Regions from separate parts of the Homo sapiens genome. Here region 1 is linked to region 2. Evidence: fine-mapped expression QTL. A gene starts in region 2. The other region holds a variant in brackets. All regions are shown on one strand. Distances are between the middles of the regions.

Evidence for each region.
Region 1: its variant is fine-mapped to the expression of SLC7A8 in whole blood (INTERVAL, PIP above 0.99).

What each region holds. Positions count from the first base shown.
Region 1 is chr14:23,146,090-23,154,588 of GRCh38, reverse strand. The region is part of intron 3 of SLC7A8 (solute carrier family 7 member 8); the gene reads left to right. Among named protein-coding and RNA genes, the nearest start is that of CEBPE, 31 kb to the right of the region's middle. The variant C/A (reference allele first, on the strand shown) is at 4,197.
Region 2 is chr14:23,179,361-23,187,859 of GRCh38, reverse strand. It overlaps SLC7A8 (solute carrier family 7 member 8), which reads left to right and starts at 4,200. Exons shown (of 11, transcript NM_012244.4): 1 at 4,200-5,096. The coding sequence starts at 4,946. It also overlaps a transcript of RNF212B not described here.

The DNA.
Region 1 (8,499 bases), 33 kb after region 2:
CTCCTAGATCTGGAAACGCCTGCGGTTGGACAGGCCAAGCCGAAGCGGCTTTTCCACAATTAGAAACACGTGCTCAGTTCCTTCCACAAGCGGGGGAGGCGGCCAAGGAACTCGGTGCAGCCAATCACAGAGCCGAGCGTAGCCACACCCACGCCCCCACAGGCCCGGCTTCCCTGCCCAGCGGCTCCAACCTCCAGCCTGGGCACCCAGACCCAGAGGGCTGCTGGGAGGGACATGCCTCACCCCTTTTGCTCCAGCTGGAGGGGAGGGAGTCTGTGGGAGCTGGCCAGAGCGTGGCAGAAGGCAGAGAAGTGAACGCCCCAGCAAAAGGTGAGGCTGAGAAGCCAACCCTTCTGGCAGGCCATGACCCAGGTGAAATTTATGGCGTTTCAGAGGGCTGGGGAGCTCCATCCAGAAAGGTGCCTGTTTTGCAGGTTTGGAGAGGAACAGGGCGTTCTGATTTCTACAAAGTGGCGTCACTGCTTCCTTTTTCAGCAACCGTCTGCTTAGTACATTCCATCTTGCTGTTTTCAGTCCTGGCCTCTCTCTGTTCTGCTCCTCTCAAGCCCTTTTTCTCTCCCACTCATCTGCATTGTCCTCCCCTTGCTCTCTCCCGCCCTGTGGTTTCTTGTGCTCTTTCCCTCTCTTCTTCACCATCTGTCTTTATGGACTTTGGCAAGTCTGGACATTTTTCCCCCTTTCTACTGCCTGTTTTCACTTATCTGAACAGACAAGGAGGAGTGGCCTGGTTCTGGAAATGTTAAAGGAAAACCAAGCCTTTCCAAGCCAGTCCAGTCCACTCCTGAGAAAGGTGCAAGCCAGCGAGACCGAGAAATCCAAATGGAGTTCCGGGAGTTTGGAGGGAACATGTGACTGTGACATTGATTAAGGGGGCTGGTGGGAGGGGACCCAAGGTGGAGATCCCTGTGGGAAATGACTTTCTAAAGCCCTGGGAGCAATGGATGCACCTTTCTTGGTTTCTGAGGCATAACTGTGAAAGTCTTCCCCTTTTGCCATATTGGCATCTTCCTTCCTGCTGCACAGAAAGCAGTCCAGGCTGGGGCTAACCAGTGTCTTGGTGACAGACCCAGAGTCCCAAGTGGCACTGGCAGTAGTGACCATGGGTACCACTGACCCAAGCAGGAGGAGAGATGATGTGGGAGCGGCCAAGGGAAAGCAGAGTGATCTGTGTATAATGAAGGAAGGCGGGGCAGAGGCAGAACAAGCAACTGGGAATTGGGCTGTCCCAGTCTGGTCTTTGCTGCGAATTAGCTGGGGTCTAAATTCACTCACATATAAAATGAGGTTCTGGGGCCGCCATGGTGGCTCACAACTGTAATCCTAGCACTTTGGGAAGCCGAGTCAGGCAGATCGCTCAAGCCCAGGACTGGGAAGCTGCAGTGAGCTATGATCATGCCACTGCACTTCAGCCTGGGCGACAGAATGAGACTCCCATCTGTAAAAGAAAAATAAAATGAGGTTCTGGGTCTCTAAGGTCATTCCTGCCTTCTGATCACCCATGAGGCTGGACACAAGCCTTGGGTGGTAGGGCGCAGGCTTCAAATATTTACCTCTAGGGCCAAGAGTTGACTACAAGGAGAGTCCCAACTGGTTCATTCTTCTTAGCACTGTCCTTATAACAACCAATCCAGCCCCGTATCCAGGTGGCCCTATCCCAACCTTTACCCTGTCAGACCAGAATAGTGTGGCTCATCGAGTGGCAGCTGGCTTAGTAGAAGAAATGAGATTGGTTCAGGGATCCATGTGGGAATGTTCATTGGCTCCCTGAGGGAGGCACAAAATGACCCCCTGCTGGCCCAGCTCAATGAGAAGCCAGAGTCCTGTATCCAAAGCAAGGGAGCACCTGAAAACATCACCGGGTGTGGCGGCTCATGCCTGTAATCGCAGCACTTTGGGAGGCCAAGGCAGGTGGCTCACTTGAGCCCAGGAGTTCTAGAGACCAGCCTGGGCAACCTGGCATAACCCGTCTCTACAAAAAATACAAAAATTAGCTGGGCCTGGTGGCACACACCTCAGCTACTCAGGAGGCTGAGGTGGGAGGATCACCTGAGTCTGGGGAGGTTGAGACTGCAGTGAGCCATCATCATGCCACTGCACTCCAGCCTGGATGACAGAGTAAGACCCTGTCTCAAAAAAAAGAAAACATTGGTGGCTCATGCCTGTAATCCCAGCACTTTGAGAGGCCAAAGTGGGCAGATTGCTAGAGCTCAGGAGTTCAAGACCAGCCTGGGCAACATGGCGAAACCCCATCTCTACCAAAAATACAAAAAATTAGCTGGGCGTGGTGGCACATGCCTGTGGTCCCAGCTACTCAGGAGGCTGAGGTGGGAGGACTGCTTGAGCCCAGGAGGCAGAGATTGTAGTTTGCCAACATCAGGCCACTGCATTCCAGCCTGGGTGACAGAATGAGACTGCTCTCAAAAAAAAGAAAACAGTTATCAAGTAGTCTCTCTCTGGGAATAACGTGTACTCTTAGTGAGCTTTTTTTTTCTTTGCTTTTGTTTTGTTTTGTTTTTGTTTTGTTTTGTTTGAGGTGGAATCTCTGTCACCCAGGCTGGAGTGCAGTGGCACGATCTTGGCTCACTGCAACCTCTGCCTCCCAGGTTCAAGTGATTCTCAGCCTCCCGAATAGCTGGCATTACAGGCATGCTAATTTTTGTGTTTTTAATAGAGACAGGGTTTTGCTATATTGGCCAGGCTGGTCTTAAACTCCTGAACTCAAGTGATCTATCCGCCTCAGCTTCCCAAAGTGCTGGGATTACAGGTATGACCCACTGTGCCCAGCAAGCTTTTTGCTTTTTTTTTTTTTTTTTTTTTTAAGAGACAGGGTTACCCAGGCCAGCATGCAATGGCACAATCACAGCTTACTGCAGCCTTGAATTCCTGGGCTCAAGTGATCCTCCCACCCCAGCCTCCCTTGTAGCTGGGACTACAGGTATGTGTCACCACATCTGGCTAATTTTCTGTTATTTTTTAAGAGACAGGATCTTGCTGTGTTGCCCAGGCTGGCCTCGAACTTCTGGCCTCAATTGATCCTCCCACCTCAGTCTCTACTGTCACTGGGATTACAGGTGTCAGTGACTGTGCCTGGCTGTACTTTGTGAGCTTTCCTAGAGGAAGGAGAGACAGCCACAATATGTACCCTCTCCCCACAACTCTGTCTGGCATCCGGGGCACTTGCTGGCCTTGCTTCATGGGCCATCCTATGACATATTAAACCTGATATTTACTCCCTAGAGCAGCACGGTGGCTTCTATGTGCACCCTCCTTGAATTTTCTGTGTAGATGTATCTATCTGTCGTTTCCATTCAGTAAGCTTTAGCGCCTACTGTGTGCCAGACAGGACCTCAAGGCCACACCAGCCACCAGGGGATTGTTTATGGCTGCGTGTGCACCGCTGGCTGTGGACAGTCTCCGTGGGGCCTGAGGAGTGGGGCAGCACGGGCAGCAACCGCACAGCTCTTCAGCTTTCTGCAGGGTGTTCCTCCCTAGCAGACAGAGGCACGTGACTTATAAGACCTGGTGGTATTTTCTTCACTAGTGGAAACTGAGGCACGGGAATATGTTTGACCATCTGGGCTTCTGGTCCAGTGCGTTAGCCTGTGCTCCCCAGCCCCACAGCCTGTACCTGTGACCCACTCCCAACTTCCAGACAGCTGGGTTGAAGGACCCCAGAGCAGGTCATTTGTGAAGGAGCATCCTCCAGAGAAAAAGATGAAACAGATTAGAAATTGAGAAGGGTCAGGGGCACGATGTACAATGTGGTCTGATGCATGATATGGTCTCTAAAATCCTTCAAACCATTCCCATTCCCCGCCACTCTGCTTTGCCTGTGAGTGTCAGCATGATCCTGAGCAAATCACATGCTCTTTTTGACTTTCTTAGTCTGCAGTTTCTTAAGATGAACAATAAAAATAATCATTTAACATTTTATGCAACAATACACAGGATACAGAGTATCGTCACATGATTCAAATGGACCATAGGTTTTACATGGAGAAAAGGGAGGCTCAGAGAGGTTAACTGAGAGTACGTGACTAAGCTGGGAAGGGCACCATGGCCGCTGAGTTCCTCAAGTTCAAAAGTTCTGTGATTCTCAGATTCAGACCTGCCAGGTCCCTCTGAGAGAGCCGACTCTGCCTCCTTCCCTTCATGCTGCTGGTGATCCTCCTCCC[C/A]ATTCTTACCACTTCACACCTTACACAAGCTCCTCTGAGCTCCGTTCACTTGTTCCACGCCCGAAAAAGACTCCAGAAACCCACATCATCCTTCACTTACCAGGTGCTACTAGGTAGAGTTGAGGGGAAGAGTGATAAGATCACAGCCTCAGCTCTGGACGATTGCAGGGACTTAAAACCAGCTCCACGACTCCCCAACCCATCCTTAAAACCTTCTAAATGAAGATTTATTTGTTTATGCTAATGATTCATTGGTGTTCTATTTCAAAAGGCACTAAAGAAATTAATTTTAAATTGTCTCTTTTACCTATAATCTATAATACTGTCATGCATTGCTTAATGATGGGGATACATTCTGAGAAATGTATCCTTAGATGATTTAGTCATTATGCAAACATCATAGAGTGTACTGACATGAAACTAGGTGGCATAGTCTACTACACACCTAGGCTACATGGTGTAACCTGTTGCTGCTAGTCTACAAACCTATACAGCATGTTACTGTACTGAGCACTGTAGGCAGTTGTATTTGTGCATTAAACATATCTAAACAGAGAAAAGATACAGTAAAAATATGGTCTTATAATCTTATGGGACCACCAAGGTATAAATAGTCTGTTGTTGCCCAAAATGTCATTATGTAGCACATGACTGTATATTGATTTAGGGTTAAAAATGGGTTGACTGAGCCCGGAAGGATACAGGACAAGCTCTTCCAAGGTGTTTTTGGTGTTGTCTACCACAGGACAGTACACGGTGGGGCCACTCTGTCCCCTCTGATGTGAAGAGTGTACTCAGACTCAGGACTCTTGGGATAATAATCTCGTAGCTTTCTATCTTGACTTCTTTTATGGCCTTTGATTGTGGCTTCTGGCCAGTGAAATAAGGAGACCAACAAAATCATGGGGGCAGAAAATAAAGGATTCATGTCTGTGAACATCCTGGCACTCCACTCGCCTTGCAAGAAGTTAGTGATTCTTGGGCCAGTGTTTGCGTATCTGGGTTGTGTGGGTGGGCCTGAAGTTGTAAGGAATACAGGGGAGACTGGGGGAGAACCTGGATTAGATGAAGGAGGGATATTGTATCTTTTGCCCTGGATTTCTCTAAAAGGAAAGAGGAAAAACACTGCTAGAGTTACAAGGCAAGGCTGTTTGCTACTGTATTGAATTACCAAATGGAGGAAGAGGAAATAGGAACACTCTAGCTGTGGGATCCCAACTAGGGTTGGGAAGCTGGAAGAAGTGCGAAGCGGCTATGTGGTGTGGAACTTTGCTAACCAGGTGAACACACTAGTGACCTCACCTTCACTACCCTCTTCTAGAGAGCGCCATCCCTTCCCTCCATCTGGTGTCCCGCAAGGCCTGTGGACAGACACTCTTTTGGGCTCCTGGTGTGTGTTGCCTGGCTGCTGTTTAAAAGCTTTTCTCTTTAAGGGTATGTCCCTGCTGTCTGGTCTTTCTGTATAATGTCTGTCTGGTATCCATTTCCTATTGCTACTGTTACAAGTAACCACAAACTTAGTGGTTTAAAACTATGCAAATGTACTATCTTAGTCCTGAAAGTCAGAAGTCCTAAACTCTAGCGTCAGCAGGCCTGAATTTCTTCAGGAGGCTCTGGGGAGAATTCCTTGCCTTTTCTAGCTTCTAGGGACCTCCCACATTCTTTGGCTCATGGCCCCATCTTTCATCTTCAAAGCCAGCAGTGTAGCATCTTCAAATCTCTCTTTCTCTCTGTCTGATGTTTCCATGATCACATGTCTTTTTATAACTCTGACCTTCTTGCCTCCCTCTTGAAAGGACTCCTGTGACAACACTGGTCCCTCTGGATAATCCAGGATAATCTCCCCATCTCAAGATCCTTAACTTGGCTGGGCGCGGTGGCTCAGGCCTGTAATCCCAGCACTTTGGGAGGCCGAGGTGGGTGGATCACCTGAGTTCAGGAATTCGAGACCAGCCTGGCCAACATGGTGAAACCCGTCTCTACTAAAAATACAAAAATTAGCCAGGCGTGGTGGCGGACACCTGTAATCCCAGCTACTTGGGAGGCTGAGGCAGGAGAATCGTTTTAACATGGGAGGCAGAGGTTGCAGAGAGCTGAGACTGCGCCATTGCACTCCAGCCTGGGCAACAAGAGCGAAACTCTGTCTCCAAAAAAAAAATCCTTAACTTAATCACATTTGCAAAGTTCCTTTTGTCATTTAAAAAACATAGTCACAAATCTCAGGGATTAGAACGTTGATATCTTGGATGGCCATAATTCTGCCTTCAACTGCCCCCCATCCCAAAGAGATATGCTGTCATTGCCAAGGGGAGGAAGTGAAGGAGAGACTTCTGTAATTCCTGGAGATCAAAGTCTGGGATCAGAGCTGGGATGGGGCTGAGGGCACCTTCTCTGTAGGGAACCCAGCCCTCCACAGTGAGCAAGCCAGTTGCAGGTCTGCAGCGAGGACTCTGAATCCCTCTGCCAGTCCTGCAGAAAGCATTGAGCCCATCTCTCCTGCTTGGCAGCTGGGAGGCCCTGGACTCTGGGCAGTGTTCCAGGTTGCTAGAATCTGAGTTTTCCTCCTCCTGCCTGACTCATTATTTGTATCTCTTCTGTCACCTTGATGTTGAGTTCTTCAAACTGGGTGGATTAAGTAACCAGCCCCTGACTTCAGCATCTTCTTGAACTCTTGTCTTCTTAATAGTCTTTCATCTTATTTTTTACCCAGGAAGCAAGAAAGAAAGAGGGGAGGAAATGCCCAAAAAATACATACAAGCCTGGAATTCCATGAGGGCCTCTAAAGAAGCAGTAACCACTCCCGCAACTAGGTTACAACGGACAAGAACCAGTCTTATGACTTTTTATTTTGTCCAGTTGGACCAGGATTATAAATTTCTCCATGTTGCCAGGGTCTCCTCCTCCTATAGAAGGCATCTCTGATTCCCCTGGGCTGAGTTAGTGGTTCCTCATAGATGCCCACTAGCTTCCGTGAATAGCTTTGCCATCACCTCGTTGTTTTGTGGGCATCTCTTACTTCACCCGTCGTCCCTGTTATACTGCCAACTTCCTAAAGGCAGGGACTTGTGTCTTATCAATAACCTCCCCACCAGCTAGAATGCCTAGTACATGTAGGCCCTGCATGAATGACGGATGAGTAGATGGGTGGATGGATAGACAGATGGATGGATGGATAGATGATGGATGGTTGGATGGGTGGGTGGATGGATGGATGATAGATGGATAGATGGGTGGGTGGATGGATGCATGGATGATGGCTAGATGGGTGGATGGGTGAATGGATCTATGATGGATGGATGGATGGATGGATGGATAAAAAGCCCCTCACATTTCAAAGCTGCTATGGCCAATGATCCTCATCTACATGTGGCTTCCCTGAGGTCACTGTGTCTCAGGAATGCGGAATTCAGGGTCTAGCCGAGAAGAGAGGGTTCTAGAATATCATCGTCCGCAACAGACAAGTGCCAAGCAGTAGCTAGCCAGCAGCAGGGCTCCTGACCGGGGCAGGAGCTTGGCGAGCACCCACTGACCTTTCCTCTCTGGGTGGAGGCTCAGGTTTCAGCCTGCTGTGAGGGAAGCTGTCTTGTGGTACCAGGAGACTGATACCCTCTTTCCCCTCAGTCACATGGTATGATCACCCAACTGCAGGGTGAAGGGCCAGATCTGGGGCCTGCAGCCATTGTTCCAAGGAGATTAGGTGTCACAGGCAGCCTGCCTATCCCCACCTCATTCTCAGAATTTCTTCTTGTTTCTGAAAGATTACTGTGAAGGTGAAAGGTTAAATATTAGTCAAGGGCTGAGTTCTTGGGAAGTGATGGAGATAAGGTTAGGCAAGACAGAAGATAGCCACAGATAGGTTATTTTACAAAGCATCCCTATCTCTGTTACCCCAGGAAGACCACAGAGCTGATAGTTTGAAGGTGTCTTTCTGTGACTCAGTAAGGTCCATCTTGTAAAGAGATGATTTCATGTTTTCTTTCCCAGCACACAGGGAGGTGGTCTGCTTGGGGGAGGAGGAATTTCTTTGAGTTGTCCTGCTCTGCCCTTATTTTCCTCAAGCACTTTCTGTCATTTCCTCGCCCTCCCCTCTCCTCCCCTTGGAGAAGGATTTTCTTCCCTGAGATCAAGATCCAGTTCCTTGTTGTGTAATCCTTACCTATCCCTGAGGCTTATGGGGTTTGTTTCCTAATCTTCCTTCCTTCCTTTTATCAATCTCCTTTATCCTTGAGTTACTGCTGTGTCTGCCTGAATTCCTGGGTGAAGGGGCGCAGCCTTGTACCTTGCATGCCTTGGGGCCTAGGGA
Region 2 (8,499 bases):
GGCCCCATCTAATCGACCATAGGCAGTGATCCCTGGGACTCTGGGAAGAAAGTTGGCTTTAATTTAAAGCAGGGTTTCCTTCTGCTTTAAACTAAAGCACATAGATATGGGGCACATAGTTACGAGAAGAAGGATGGAGTGAGCGCATGGACTGTGAGTTGACTCCAGGGAGAGATTTGGGTCCTTTGTTGGTAACCTCAGACTTCCCAGCTCTGTTACAAAAAGCAAGAATAAAGTGCTGTCTATTGGATCTAGAAAAAAAAATCAGGAATGGAGTGCATGAGCTTTGTGCTCTATTCCTTTGCATTAGCAGACACGTCTAACTTGTCTCTGAAAGGGAATATTAACCCGGGTGTGGTGGCGCACATCTGTAGTCCCAGCTACTCGGGAGGCTGAGGCGGGAGGATCACTTGAGCCCAGGAGTTTGAGGCTGCTGTGAGCTGTGATTGTGCCACTACACTCCAGCCTGGGTGACAGAGTGAGACCTTGTCTCTAAAAAAGGGGGGAGTAGGGGAATATTAGAACATGACTGCGTGGGGGTTGTGTGTGTTTGTGTTTTAACTATCACAAGCAGCATGTCCCAAGCCATAACCTTTTCTGTCCAGTAGGTGTCAGCTACGCACAGCCTTTCTCTTTCTAAATCCATATTTGTAAGAAAACGGCCTTTCATCCATAATTTTCCCTAGTTAAAGGGATCAATTTCTTCTGATCTGAAGCACGCAAAACAGCTGAAACAGTGGCTCCGATATTGGAAACAGAATTGTACTACGTACTTGGGATATGGCCACACTGAGGACTGTGCGAAGGGGGTGACAAATGTTGGGGGGGCCCAGGTGAAGTCCTGTGGGTCTCACTGAGCAGATAAGTGTTAGGATCAAGGTGAGTCTCTAAAAGGCACAGTTAAGACACCAAAGCAAAAACACAGAGTTTCCCTCAGGTGAAAGAAATTGAGGCTTTGACCAGTAGCTATAGCATCCTGAAAAAGTGCTCAGTGTAAACTATCAATCTCCCATTTGCCCTCAAATAGACTGTCTTGTTTTTTACCTCAGGTAAAATATTTCTTTAAGCCTCAGGTTTCTAATTTTTAAAATCTTTAAGATAACTGCCTCGTCTGCCCAAGATACTACATGAGGAGGAAAAAAATTGAGATATTGTTCAGAAAACCATTTGTGGGCTATAAAGCACTATTTAAACGTAGAGAATAGAATAAAAATATAAAGGCAAATGCAGAATAGAGTAATCCCAGCACTTTGGGAGGCCGAGGCGGGTGGATCACAAGGTTAGGAGTTCAAGACGAGCCTAACCAACAGGGTGAAACCCCGTCTCTACTAAAAACACAAAAATTAGCCAGGCATGGTGGCAGGTGCCTGTAATCCCAGCTACTTAGGAGGCTGAGGCAGGAGAATCACTTGAACCTAGGAGCCAGAGGTTGCAGTGAGCCGAGAGCCGAGATCGCACCACTGCAGTCCGGCCAGAGCAGCAGAGCGAGACTCCTTCTCAAAAAAAAAAAAAATGCTCAAAATTTAATAAACATTAGTTTGTAATTTTTTACAGATTTTTGTCAACATATTACACCAAGGCTTTTCTTTCTCTCTTGTGTTCAATGTTAGTCACCTGGAATTTTGACACACTTAAGAGTTTATGTCACAAAAAGATTCCAACCTACAGAGAGGCACTTAATATAAATAATGCTCCCTTTGAAAGTGGGGAGATTCCTTTCCTAGCTTTGTTTGTTTGTTTGTTTTGGTTTGGTTTTTTTAAAGACAGGGTCTCACTTTGCCACCCAGGCTGGAGTGCAGTGGTGCGATCTTGGCTCATTGCAGCCTCAACCTCCATGGCTCACACGATCCTCCCACCTCAGCCTCCTGAGTAGCTGGGATTACAGGCGTGAGCCACCACACCCAGCTAATTTTTGTATTTTTTGTAGAGATGGGGTTTCACCACATTGCCCAGTCTGGTCTTGAACTCCTGAGTTCAAGCACTCCACCTGCTTCGGCCTCCCAAAGTGCTGGAATTACAGGCATGAGCCACCGTGCCCAGCCCCTTTCCTAGATATTACATCGCACCAGTAATCAATGGTAATAAGCCACTTATAAATTCCAAGTGCTAAAGAAATAGAAATACTAATCTTCAGCAACTCTTCCTTTCCAACGTGTGCACCTAGTACCGCTGTATTCCAAGAACGTATTTGATCCCATAACCCCCTTAGCTTCTTAGTTCATAATTTGAGAGGGCTAAAGCTTACCATATCGTTATCAGTTTGCACTGGTTTTAGCAAGAGACCTCAAATTCATCACATTCATGTTTTATCCCACATTAAGTCTGCATCATATAAATTAGAACTACCAAATATTACTGAAAGAACTCACGTTTAAGAAGCAGAAACATTATTTGTTTTATATGGTGATGTTGAAATCGGAGCAGAAGTCTTCAAATCTGAATGTATACAAATGAATCTATCAAATTTTTCCTCAGTGCTTTCTAAGGTTGTCAGGAAAGGCTAGAGGCAAATTCGACATTTTTTCATTTCCCATGACTCATTCCCTCCCATGGAGTTTCGTGCTATATATTCCCTGCCTTGTCTGGTTTTTTTTGTTGTTGTTTGTTGTTTTTTTTTTGCTGAGTCTTTCAATTTGCTGTGTCTTGAACTAGCAAAAGGAGGAGAGGAAGTTCCTCCCAACCTTTGAAACCTCTTAATACTTGCTGAGTGATCAAGGGGGCAGATGACTGCTGATTGGACTTTACCCCATTTGAAAAAGCTTTTGCTATGATAGCTCAACAAACCTCATTTTAAGGAATTAAGTATTTATTTTCCTTAAAACCCAAAATCTTTTGGAACATTTTCCAGAAAGTGAGGCCAAATTTTTGTAGTTAGGGGTCAGTTTGGGGGAACTTAATTTTTTAGGCCCACTTTAAAATTAAATAATTTTGCATAATATATTTAATAAGGCTAAAAATAACTTTATTTTAGACTTATAGTGTTGTCCACTATATTGCTTCATGCTGTTTTTTCGAAATAATTTACAATTATAAATAGACATTGTTGCTCTCACCTTAAGGCAGCAGTTTCTGAGTGAAATTCTTCAAGAAAGTGGAGGCATCATTTCGATATGGTAATAAGCTAGTTATTCTAACATCAACAAGTATGTTTCATGATCAGCGATATACTGATAATTCCCCATGTGTGCTTTTCAAATAGTTTATAAATGCAAAAATATTAGAAGTTGCAGGATCAGGGTTTGAGTCATTTTTTTTCATGTTTCAGCCAGTCCTAAATAAGAGCTGTGAACAACAAGGCTACCTGGTGATTTTGTTTTTTATCTTTTTGTATGTGCATGTGGTTTTTCTGGCTTTTTGTTTTGTTTTGTTTTTGAGACAGGGTCTTGCTCTACCTCCCAGGCTGGAGTGCAGTGGCGTCATCATAGCTCACTGCAGCCTTGACCTCCTGAGCTCAAGCAATCCTCCAGCCTCAGCCTCCTGAGTAGCTAAGACTACAGGCCTGCACCACTGCACCCGGCTAATTTTAAAATTTTTAGTAGACGGGGTCTCGCTCTGTTGCACAGGCTGGTCTCAGACTCCTGGGCTCACGTGATCCTCCCCTGTCAGCCTCCCAAAGCGCTGGGATTACAGGCGTGAGCCACCGCGCCTGGCGATTTTGTTTCCTCTGTACTCTTCGTAGCTCACAATTACGCTAAAAGAACCTTTTTCCCATTGTTAATTCCTTCCATTTCCCTCCCCCACCCGTCGATTCCCCCTATTTTTAGGAAACTCGAAGATGATGTCCTTTCAACGTTCTCTCCTGTATTCTCAAATACAGGATCCAGTCCTAAATATTTTTTAATACATTGGCTAGTTTATTTCTGATGGCATTAAAAGTATCGGCACAACTGTTCCCTGATTTATAAAGCTCACAGATGCTGTATGACCTGTAACATTATACTAGCTAATGAGCTCTCCCGGAACAGTTGACGTGGAAGGAGTTTACTTCCACTTGGTTGCAAGGAGAAAGATGGAGAAAGCGAGAGACGATTGCAAAAAGAAATAACTTAGTCCATTTTCTCAGTGCTGTTTGGGGGCTTTGTGCTAATACTTAAATTGCAGAGGAGGGAGGAGACGGGACTGAGGATGGAGGGGAGCAGAGGAGGCAGGGGCGGAGCCTCGGCGGGCGAATAAAACCCCTCGCTAAAGAGAAGCACGTTAGTGTGTGGAGAAGCCACTCTCCCGAAACCAGAGGGATGGGGCCGGCTGTGCAGTAGAACGGGGATCGAAAAGAGGAAAACAAGGGCACGAAGACCAGCGAGAAAGAAGAGGACACCTGGGAAAGGCGGAAGCAGAAGACGGGGAAGGGAAAAGAAACCCAAAGCAGGTGGAAACCAGATCTAGAGCAACACCGTCAGGTTCACAGTTTGTTTTTCTAGAAGAGAAGAAAGTACCTGAGGATTGCTCTTTTTTCCTACCGTTAATGAAAACTACTTTTGTCTTCATCATAAAAGAAAAAACTAAGGGGAGGTAAAGGCAGTCTCCTGTTTTATTAGGGGGAGAGGTGAAGGGAAATCCAGGCTCACTTTCTGAATAAGCCACTGCCTGGTGCACAGAGCAGAACCATCCTGGTTTCTGAAGACACATCCCTTTCAGCAGAATTCCAGCCGGAGTCGCTGGCACAGTTCTATTTTTATATTTAAATGTATGTCTCCCCTGGCCTTTTTTTTTTTTTTTTTTTTTAGCAACACTTTTCTTGTTTGTAAACGCGAGTGACCAGAAAGTGTGAATGCGGAGTAGGAATATTTTTCGTGTTCTCTTTTATCTGCTTGCCTTTTTTAGAGAGTAGCAGTGGTTCCTATTTCGGAAAAGGACGTTCTAATTCAAAGCTCTCTCCCAATATATTTACACGAATACGCATTTAGAAAGGGAGGCAGCTTTTGAGGTTGCAATCCTACTGAGAAGGATGGAAGAAGGAGCCAGGCACCGAAACAACACCGAAAAGAAACACCCAGGTGGGGGCGAGTCGGACGCCAGCCCCGAGGCTGGTTCCGGAGGGGGCGGAGTAGCCCTGAAGAAAGAGATCGGATTGGTCAGTGCCTGTGGTATCATCGTAGGTGAGTTCCATTCCTTCCCGCGGACCCCTCCTCTCCCCTCTGGTGGTCCTCCTGTGAGATCTTAACCCTTCGAAAGCATTATTGTTCTTCCTATTCCTTAGAAAAGGATTGTCAGTCACCTGAGCTGTAACTCACCTCCACTGGTCAAGTTTGAGAGGCATAGGAAATACATCATACATCTCTTCCTCCAAACCAGGCAAAGATTCTGCCCAGTGTTCATAGAATGGAGCAAATCGTGGTCAGAAACCCGGCTGATGATTAGCATTGCCTGGGAACTCCTTAAAAATACAGGTCCTGGTCTCGACACTTGGAGGTTCTAGTTCAATAGGTTTAAGGAGGGACTGAGGGACCTGAACAAGTTTGTATGCAGCTATTATTCCCAGGCTGGGGATGGGCTTTTAAGGTATATTTGGTAGCTATTTTGCAGTTTTATGTTAAATGAAACTATGGGATAGGTATTAAAAATAGCAAGAGCAATGCCCTGCCTTTTTATTTTAGCGTTTTCCACCTTATGCAGCACTTTTACTGTGTGAAGTAGCTGTGACAGGGCTGTTATTCCCATTTCACAGATGGGGAAGTTATGGAAGAAAAGAGGGGACAGATTGTGCCTCTCGGTAAGTGGAGAGTTTGCAGTTTCTCCAGTTGCCTGGTGGGGTCCACCTGTTTCTTAACAGCCACGGAGGACCCGGTGAAGCTCTCAGAGGGAATCAGGAGTAACTAGAATGTGTAGAATATGGAGTTGAGGAGGAACTGATGGGTAAAATATGTGTCCTAGCTGGGAGGTGCTGAAGGTGGGGAACCTGGGTGGCCCCAAGAGTGCCAGTGCAGGCCACTCAAACCCCCTGAATGTACTTTGCAGGGCAGGAGTCCCAAATACAGCTTCGTCTCTAGACAGCACATCCTCTTTCCAGAGAAGCCTTGGAGATGGATGGCAGGCAATAGCTCACTATTCCTGCCCTCACTTCAGAGTGAGAGATTGTTCTGCTATCTTTGGTAGGGGGCTTTACTTTCTTCCCAGAAAAAGGAGTGCAGGACGGTCAGGCATAGATATGCTTCTTTGTCATCTCTCCAGAGTTCCTTTATGAGAGCTCGTTGTGTCCTGGTGCCCCTGAACCAGTTTCTCTGGCTGACGCCATGTTCTATGCAATAGCTCAGAGATATTTTGGCATCTGAGCAATAGTGACACTGGAGAGCACTCTTGAAATCAAATAAAATCAGTGCAGTATTCAGATAATCCTCTTCACCTCTACACCCAGAACTTCAGTGACCAAGCTCTCTTCAGTCTCTAAAATGAAATCCCATCCCCCCCCCACCCCCACCAACTCCTCCTACACCCTGGAATCCTATTTTATGTGATTCCCTGACTCTGGGAAGTTTTCCAGGCCATCTACAGTTATAAGAAAGATAATGTTATAAGAAAAATTGTAGTCATGATCTGAATCTCTCTTTACTTTTTCTCATGACATTTTTTTTGCCTCTCCTTTACTTTATCTCAATTGTTCAAAAGAAATGAGAACAGCCAAGTATTCAGTATGTATAGCACATGCCAGTTTAAGGTCTATAAATAGCCCGTTCACCAATTTGACTGACAGAATTAAGCATTTTCCCCCTCTAGGAAGGTTCTGACTTATACACAGATGCGCACGCCCACAGGCACACAAGCACAATTAAACATCCTTCCTGCCTCAGCCTGGCTCGCCCTTCCCAATATAGGTTCAGGTATTCTTTTTTTTTGTTCAGACGGAGTCTCGCTCTGTGGCCCAGGCTGGAGTGCAGTGGCGCGATCTCGGCTCACTGCAAGCTCCGCCTCCCGGGTTCACGCCATTCTCCTGCCTCAGCCTCCCGAGTAGCTGGGACTACAGGCGCCCACCACCACGCCCTGCTAATTTTTTTTGTATTTTTAGTAGAGACGGGGTTTCACCGTGTTAACCAGGATGGTCTCGATCTCCAGGTTCAGGTATTCAAGGGTAGAGGGTATTTTCCTATATACTGATGTTTTTGTCTCTTCCTTTAACATCTTTTTCTAAGATTATGAAGAAATGGGAGTGTTCAGGTATAATAAGTACAATTTCTGTGGGTATATGTTACTACTGATTTGTCCACAACCTTATGGATGGTACTTCAATGGGAGAATAATCTCAAAGCTCCCCATGGTGGCATTACAGTAACTAGAATGGCAATTCTGGTGTTCTGTGATGAAAAGAGATTCCAAATATGTGATTTCAGAGAAATTGGGATATTTTTGCAAAACATGAGAATCCTTGTAGAGTTAATAGGCACTATTCTACCCCAACTTAAGCTAGAAACAAATTTCCCCTTTAAGATGATAACAGGGGACAAAATCCATTCTGCTTCCCCTCCCGAGTTGCTGTTGAGTCACAGATGTGCTGAGGAACTGCCCTTTCCTCTTCTGGAGAAGTTTCTCAGTGGATGATCGTGATTCAAGTGTTTTCAAGACCAAATGCAAAAATAGAAATGGCATTTTCTGTGTAGATTTCAGGGATCTGGTGTCCAATGTCAACACTGCAGAAAAAAAGAGAACTAAAAGGCAAAAAAAGGGCCGGGTGCGGTGGCTCACACCTGTAATCCCAGCACTTTGGGAGGCCAAGGCGGGCGGATCACGAGGTCAGGAGATCAAGACCATCCTGGCTAACACGGTGAAACCTCGTCTCTACTAAAAAATACAAAAAATTAGCCGGGCGTCGTGGCGCATGCCTGTAGTCCCAGCTACTCGTGAGGCTGAGGCAGGAGAATTGCTTGAACCCAGAAGGCAGAGGTTGCAGTGAGCCAAGGTTGCGCCACTGCACTCCAGTCTGGGTGACAGAGTGAGACTCCATCTCAAAAAAAAAAAAAAAAAGTCAAAAAGAGAAAGGAAGTTTTCTAAGTGAATCAGGAGACATGTTATGGAAAAGTAGAATTTGTCCCATCTTTCTTTCTTTCTTTCTTTTTTTTCTGAGACAGTGTCTCGCTGTGTTGCCTAGGCTGGAGTGCTGTGGCGTGCTCACTGCATCGCTGCAGCCTCAAACTCCTGGGCTCAAGCGATCCTTCCACCTCAGCTTCCTCAGTAGCTGTGACCACAGGCATACACCACGACACCTAGCTATTTTAAATTTTTTCTTGTAGAAACAGGGTCTCACTGTATCGCCCAGGCTGGTCTCCAACTCCTGGGCTCAAGAAATCCTCCCACCTCGGCCTATCAGTGCTGGGATTACAGGCATGAGCCACCGTGCCCGGCCCCCAGATCTTTTTTTTTTTTTCAGGGACTGTGGCAAAGTTACATTTGCCCTAAATCTATCTCTCTCATACCTTACTGACTAAGAGGGATAATTTAAACTACATGTTTTGTAAAATTTCATTCACAATCAACATGGATGATTGAAAGCAAGGATAACAGAATGGTAGG